Homo sapiens: one gene and its partner. The protein of the gene in region 2 interacts with the protein of the main gene of each other region in a biochemical or structural test. Each region holds a gene or a part of one and is shown on either strand. Other genes may lie near its edges.

Evidence for each region.
Region 1: the proteins of JAG1 (region 2) and NOTCH3 form a complex in vitro, tested with the Homo sapiens proteins (one study listed by BioGRID).

Annotation. Positions count from the first base shown.
Region 1 is NC_000019.10:15,187,309-15,191,120, reverse strand, and holds part of NOTCH3 (neurogenic locus notch homolog protein 3 precursor), read left to right. Parts: intron 1-1,692; coding exon 1,693-1,848; intron 1,849-1,946; coding exon 1,947-2,132; intron 2,133-2,772; coding exon 2,773-2,886; intron 2,887-3,126; coding exon 3,127-3,240; intron 3,241-3,782; coding exon 3,783-3,812. UniProt on the Homo sapiens protein: Functions as a receptor for membrane-bound ligands Jagged1, Jagged2 and Delta1 to regulate cell-fate determination.
Region 2 is NC_000020.11:10,642,742-10,646,553, forward strand, and holds part of JAG1 (protein jagged-1 precursor), read right to left. Parts: intron 3,344-3,812; coding exon 3,230-3,343; intron 2,729-3,229; coding exon 2,615-2,728; intron 2,516-2,614; coding exon 2,402-2,515; intron 2,239-2,401; coding exon 2,122-2,238; intron 1,644-2,121; coding exon 1,616-1,643; intron 1,123-1,615; coding exon 1,037-1,122; intron 1-1,036. UniProt on the Homo sapiens protein: Ligand for multiple Notch receptors and involved in the mediation of Notch signaling. May be involved in cell-fate decisions during hematopoiesis. Seems to be involved in early and late stages of mammalian cardiovascular development.

The DNA of each region.
Region 1 (3,812 bases), on a different chromosome or scaffold from region 2:
TGGAGATTGCAGTGAGCCAAGATTGCACCACTGCACTCTAGCCTGGGTGACAGAGTGAGACTCCTTCTCAAATTTAAAAAATAAAAAAAAGATTATGCTAGGCCGGGCACAGTGGCTCATGCCTGTAATCCCAGCACTTTGGGAGGCCAAGATGGGAGGATCGCTTGGGCCCAGGACTTTGAGACCAGCCTGGACAACATAGTGAGTTTTTGTCATCTCTACAAAAACTTGGTAGGCTGGGTGTGGTGGCTCACGCCTGTAACCCCAACACATTGGGAGGCCCAGGCGGGTAGATTGCTTGAGCTCAGCAGTTTGAGACCAGCCTGGGCAACATGGCAAAACCCTATCTCTACCAAAAATACAAAAAATTAGCTGGGCATGGTAGCGCATGCCTGTAGTCCCAGCTACTCTGGATGCTAAGGTTGAAGGATGGCTTGAGCCCAGAAGGTGGAGGTTGCAGTGAGCTGAGACTGAGCCACTGCGTTCCAGCCTGGGAGACAGTGTAAGACCGTGTATAACAAAAAAGAGAGAGAAAAAAAGATGATGCTGGAGGCAGCTTTAGTGGGGAAGTGTAAGCCTGGGAGAGGCTTGGGAGGAGGCTGACATTGCACTGATGCATGGCTCAGGGCAGAAGCCATTGGAATGGGGAACTCCTGGGAGTTACCTTTGGAAGTGGCAAAGATCAGAGAACATGTTTAGGAGGGGAACGTGGATATAGAAAGAGGGCATACATGGCAGAGGGTATTACAGAAGCAAAGGCTGGAGTGTAGGACCCTTTTGTAATCAGAAGAGTCAAAAGGTTTTAAAACAATATGTGGATGTTTGCAATTTATTTTATTTTATTTTTGAGACAGAGTCTCACTTTGTCACCCAGGCTGGAGTACAGTGGCATGATCTCAGCTCACTGCAGCCTCGACTTCCTGGGCTCAAGTGATCCTCCCACCTCAGTCCCCCAAGTAGCTGGGATTACAGGCGTGCGCCACCATGCCCGGCTAAGCTTTGTATTTTTTGTAGAGACGGGTCTCACTATATTGCCCAGGCTGGTCTTGAACTCTTGAACTCAAGCGATGCACTCACCTTGGCCTCCCAAAGTGCTAGGATTATAGACGTGAGCCACTGTGCCCGGTCTGCAATTTATTTTTAAATGGTTTAGAAAAGAAGATTGGTAGATTAAGCTAACAATAGTTGAATCTAGGTGGTGGGTATATGAATGGTCAACTTTTCTGTATGTTTGATAGTTCTCATAATAAATGGATTAAAAAAGCAGCTACTAAATACTGTTTAGGTTTAATAAAAACAACAGGCCGGGCGCGGTGGCTCACGCCTGTAATCCCAGCACTTTGGGAGGCTGAGGCAGGCAGATCACCTGAGGTCAGGAGTTTGAGACCAACCTGGCTAACTTGGTGAAACCCCGTTTCTACTAAAAATACAAAAAATTAGCCGGGCGTGGTGGCACATGCCTGTAATCCCAGCTACTCGGGAGGCTGAGCAGGAGAATCGCTTGAACCTGGGAGGTGGAGGTTACAGTGAGCCAAGATCGCGCTATTGTACTCCAGCTTGGGCAACAAGAGCGAAACTTCGTCTCAAAAAACAAAACAAAACAACAACAACGACAAAACAATACTCAAGGGGTGTGGGCCTTTTGGGCAGAGCAGGAAGATCTGCCTATGACTTCTGCTTACCACTTCCCAGGCCTCCTGTGTCACCTGGATGACGCCTGTGTCAGCAACCCCTGCCACGAGGATGCTATCTGTGACACAAATCCGGTGAACGGCCGGGCCATTTGCACCTGTCCTCCCGGCTTCACGGGTGGGGCATGTGACCAGGATGTGGACGAGTGCTCTATCGGTGAGGGGAGCTCCATCGTCTGTGAATGGGCTGGGAAAGAGGGGAGAGGAGGGGGTCCCGGCCAGCCACGCCCACACCGATCGCACTCCATCCGGCAGGCGCCAACCCCTGCGAGCACTTGGGCAGGTGCGTGAACACGCAGGGCTCCTTCCTGTGCCAGTGCGGTCGTGGCTACACTGGACCTCGCTGTGAGACCGATGTCAACGAGTGTCTGTCGGGGCCCTGCCGAAACCAGGCCACGTGCCTCGACCGCATAGGCCAGTTCACCTGTATCTGTATGGCAGGTGGGTGGTGGGCGTGGCCTGGGCGGGTCCTGAGGCAGGGGGCGGGGACAGAGAAGCCCGCGGATGGGGAGCTGAGCAGAATGGGGTGTAAGTGGGTTTGGAGTGGGACCCTTAGAGACTGAAGCCTGGAAGGAGGTGGGGTCAGGACCAGAAGGGAATACTGTGTGATTCTGGGGGCTTGGTCAAATGGAGTCAGTAGAACCTCAGGTGGGCTGGGAGTATTCTTGGCCTTAGGACCCACTCGGGAAGGGGTTGGGGATAGAGAGGCAGAGTCGGGGCTGCTGTGAGGTCAAGGTGAAGCCTGCAGACAAGCTTGCAGTAAGCCTGGGCAAAGGCTATGGGGGGCCCTGGGGCTGGGGGCTGGGGACTGGGGAAAGGGCTTAGTCTGAGGACTGGGGAGAGGAGGAGGGGTTTGAAGGCAAGGCCTCTGCGGACACCCATGAGCCTTGGGCCAGTTGGGACCACGGCTGGGTGACAGTCCAGCCTGTGGCTGAAAATTAAGGTTGGGCTGGGAGTGTAGAGGTGGGGACGAAGGCTCGGGGGATTTGTCGATGAGTAGGAAGGGAAGTACCTCCTTCCTTGCACCCCGTTCACACCATAGGGTAGCCCCCGCTTTCCTAAGCCCTATTCCCTGCCCCAGGCTTCACAGGAACCTATTGCGAGGTGGACATTGACGAGTGTCAGAGTAGCCCCTGTGTCAACGGTGGGGTCTGCAAGGACCGAGTCAATGGCTTCAGCTGCACCTGCCCCTCGGGTGAGGACCTCAGGAGAGGGAGCCCGAAAAGACATGTCTGGGAAGGGGCAAAAACTCCAGGGTGGGAACCTGTAAAACCACGTTAGCGGATAACTTACAATAGAAACCATATGTTATGAAACATTGAAGTTAATTTAAATCCAAGTAAATGGGTTTTTCCACCCAAACAAGGCGGGGCTGGAGAGGGGTGTACTGCTCTCACCCTTTCTGGGCCTCTGCTCATCCCACTCCCCACCCCAGGCTTCAGCGGCTCCACGTGTCAGCTGGACGTGGACGAATGCGCCAGCACGCCCTGCAGGAATGGCGCCAAATGCGTGGACCAGCCCGATGGCTACGAGTGCCGCTGTGCCGAGGGTGAGGCGGGCCAATGACAGTCCGACAAGAATCAGGAGGCGGGGCTTGTGGGCGACAGGGCCAATAACAGACTTGGGGAGAGCTTGGGGGCGGGGTTGTAGCAAGGCAGGACCCAGTGACAGAGTTGGGGGGTGGAGCCAATAATGCATATAGACTGACATAAGGCTACGTGTGGAGCCAAAGTGTTGGGCTGGGCACAGGGTGCCTGTAACTGAATGGGGAGGGCCCAATACCTTCCCCTGGCACCTGCCATGTGCTCCCATCTCCAGTGGAGGGTGGGGCAGAAACAGGGCTGGAGGTGGGGCCACAGCTGGGGGCGGGATTTAACTGTGGGAGAGTCTTGGCTAGGGACAAATTCTGGAGCTTGTAGTGGGGTGGAGTGGAAGTAAGTGGGGGGTGGGGGGTGGGGCCTGTATTGAGCTCGCCTCCTGACAGCTTGATGGGCAGGGCCTCAGATAGAGCTGAACCAGGATTGGTCCGAGGCCTCACTTGTGGGCAGGCCCCTGGCAAGTGGGCGGAGCCTGACCCTCTTGGCCCCACAGGCTTTGAGGGCACGCTGTGTGATCGCAACG
Region 2 (3,812 bases):
AGAAACAGATCTATTGCAAAAACCTCCAATCACTGGCTCCCAAAGACCACCACCATCCTGAGTTCTAACAGTGGAGAACCATTTTGGGAGGCAGCAATTTTTAATTTGATTCCTTTGACAGTGCAATTTACAGCAAGCCTGGCAAAGTTTCCTGGAAGGGGTCAGACAGTAAACATCTTAGGCTTTGTGGGGTATATAGTCTCTGTCACAACTATCCAACTCTTGTGGTATCATGAAAGTAGCCATAGACAATACATAAATGAATGTGTGGCTGTGTGCCAAGAAAACTGTATTTATAAAAACAGACAGTGGGCTGGATACGGCCCCTGGGCCACAGTTTGCCAACTGTTTATTTAGAAACATGAAACAGATACAACCTGCCCCCATCTAGTGCTGAAGACTAGTTAATCCCAGACTTGGATTTCAAGCACCAGTAAAATTTCAGACAATTTGGGTACAAGAATCAAACCATAACTACTCTAGCACCTTTTTTGTTCTGTAAGAGAAAGGGCTTGTAAAAAAGTAGAGAAAAGGCTCAAAATAATATGCTTTAAGCCTCTTGAAAAACTGCGTTGCCTGCCCCTATTTTCCTGTTTTAGTCATTTCTCCAGGGCCTGATCAGACCCAGCACAGACAAGCCTCTGGAAGCCACAGTCGTCCTCCCTTCCGTTTGTATTAGCTTTATCCTATACCAGTGTAGCTGTGGTTAACATCTGCTTGCCCATAATTTCATGTTAGTCATGGGGAAATGCACATACTTTCTTCAGGACCCCACTGTAGATTAATCATCAGATTCTGTGACTGGCACTCTCTCCCCAAGAACAAGGAGGGCTACACCACCCAGGGAACTACCAGCAGGTACCTGGGAGGATCCAGCCTGGCATATCTTAATCCCAGCTGGAGGAGAGAGATCCTTTGCTCTATGAGAGCTACTTAAAGGGAATGGTGGCTTTGTTTTTAAAGATGAAAGTCTTGGGGTGAGGCATGGAATGAAGCGGTAAAGCCATTGGGAAAACCAGACGGAGACAGTCCTTACTTATTCTGCAGTCGGGCCCAGCAAAACCCGGGGCACATTCGCACCGGTACCAGTTGTCTCCATCCACACAGGTGCCGCTGTTGTAACTAAGAAAGCAAAGACCACCTTGGTTACCAACCTCCCAGTCCATTACTCTGGCTGCCAATCACTCACATGTCACCACACCAGTTACAGTCAGTGGCTCTCACCCCATGGCCGTTGCCTGGGGAATTTTAAAAGAATACTGATGCCTGGGTCCCACCCCCAGAAAGTCTAATTTCACAGGTCTTGGTTGCAGCCCAGGCAGCGGGATTTTTAAAAGCTCCCAGGTGATTCTGGTGTGCAGCCAAGGTTGAAAAATCACTGCTCTAAATGAGGACACAACCTGGCTAATTAAAGTGTGGTCCATGGGGCAGCAGGATCGCTTCACCTGGGAGCTTGTTAGAAAAGCAGTCTGAGGCCCCACCCCAGACCTCCTGACTCAGAACTTGCATTTTAAACACAATCCCTGGGTGATTCTCACACACACACACACACACACACACACACACACACACACGATAGTGGATGAGTGCTGGCTTAAAAGGATGTCACACTTACCAGGGATGAGGGCTGCAGTCATTGGTATCTGCAAAGAAAAGACAACTTAATAGTGAGGACTTCAACAGGGAAAGCGGTCTTAGCCCTAAGTAAAACCACCACTTATTTTCCTAATACCCAAATGATAAAGTCGTAGTTAACACCAGCAAAATACCTTTGCTAAATTGGAACCAGGCCCGCACCACACTTAGTTTCATTTGCTGTGGGACACATGTACACAGGAAGAGGCCCTGGTAGGGGATAGGGGTGGGGGTGAGAATGGAAGGAGACAGGCTGCTGGTCAGACCCAGAGCTGGGAACTGAGACGCCATCTGTCTCCACTTATCTTATTGGCGACTTTCTCATGCCCAGGTCAGGGCTGTATCCCATCAAGTCATTAATGCAGACCCAGGTGATACAAAAGCAGACATCAAACAGCTCTGCTTCTGGTTTCCATTGCAAGTCCCCAAGGGTGTCAGGATCTGCTCCGACAGCCCTGGGAGAGTTCAAGGGGGGAGGACACTCACTCTGAGCACAGATGGGCCCCTCCCAGCCTTCCTTGCAGACGCACGTAAAGGACTCGCCGTTGACCACACATGTGCCCCCATTATGGCAGGGGTTGGGCAGGCAGCTACTGTTTCGGGCTATAAAAGAAGAGCAGACACGACCACCCTCCCTGAGTATCCAGAAACAGTCTGGAGGGGCAAGAACCAGGCCCAGAGAAATATCATAAGCTCCAGGGGCCAACCAGCAGACACGCCCAGGTGGCCATGCCCACTGCAGATCCCACGTGGGGCATAAAGTTACCTATGTTACAGGTTGTTCCTTCCCAGCCGCCAGGACACATGCACTTAAAAGCATCCCCCTCATCATAGCAGGTGCCACCGTTGTTGCACGTGGCCTCATCACACTGACTGTCACCTGGAGGAAAATATTTCAGTGTGAGTCCCAGTGGCCCCCTCCCACAGAAGACAGAGGGAAGGGTCCCAGAGATAGCATCCAAGGCCAACTACCACTTACGTGAGTGGCAGGTCTTTCCTTTCCACCCATTTTTACAGTCACAGTAGAAGTCATTGACCAGGTCGCGACACGTGCCCCCATTGTGGCAGGGGTTCTGGCTGCAGTCATTAATATCTAGAATCAAAGGGGAGACAATCGGCTGAAGACGAGATCCAGGACCATTCACGACAGGCGAGAGCCAAGCCTTTCCTACTGCTTACATCCAACATCCTATTCTGAGAACAGCCACAGTCGTAGTACTTTAACACAATCAGGCTTTTCCAGGAATAAAGGAGCTCCCAACTGGGTTACTTTGAATGCCACAAGTTAGGCAAGATGTGGGGTGGGCCTCTGGAAGTCCCATGGAAATGAAAGTAGAAATATGACTTTCCTTGCAAGCAGGAATATTTATTACACAGTCTAATTCTATAGGTCCTCAGCAGAAGCTCCTCCCCATAAGCTATCATCAGGACTCATAAATGCAAATGAGACACAAGTGATACTGTCCCAGTGCAGAAATCACTGCGGTCTTGCTTCCAGAGATTTCCAGTACAAAGAAAGTTTTCCCACGTTGAAGTGGGATCCCTCCAACATGACCCATACATCCCAGAGCTCCCCAAAGAGTGGCAGACTCACTGGTTTCACAGTAGGCCCCCTCCCAGCCGTCACTACAGATGCACTTGTAGGAGTTGACACCATCGATGCAAGTGCCACCGTTTCTACAAGGGTTGCTCTCACAGTCATTAATATCTATGAAACAAAGTAAAGCAAAAAAAGAACTGAAGGACTTGTGAAGCCATAGACAAGCACTGTTCAGCAGTTTTCATGGCTCCCTCCTGACACAATGCACCTGGCACCTCCACCTGCTACCCTCCATCAGGGCTGTTTCTCAAATTAGACAGGCGGCTTATCAAGCAGAAGCTTCCAGAGAGTGCCTTACCCACTTAATGCCCTCACATGGGCATTTAGTCACCGGTACTAGGTGAAAGTGGGGAAGAAACTCCTACAGAAAAGAGGAATCACCCAACCTAGCAACATTCCAGAATGTTCCAACATAGATATGGAGGCTCCGAGGCAGAGTGATCTGGTAAATTGAACACGACCTCAGTCTTAGATCCCAGATGTAAGGATAAGTCTCAACCAGTCTCCCCAGCCTTACTGTTTCTGATTAAAACAATTTCAACACTGCTGGGCATGGTGGCTCACACCTGTAATCCCA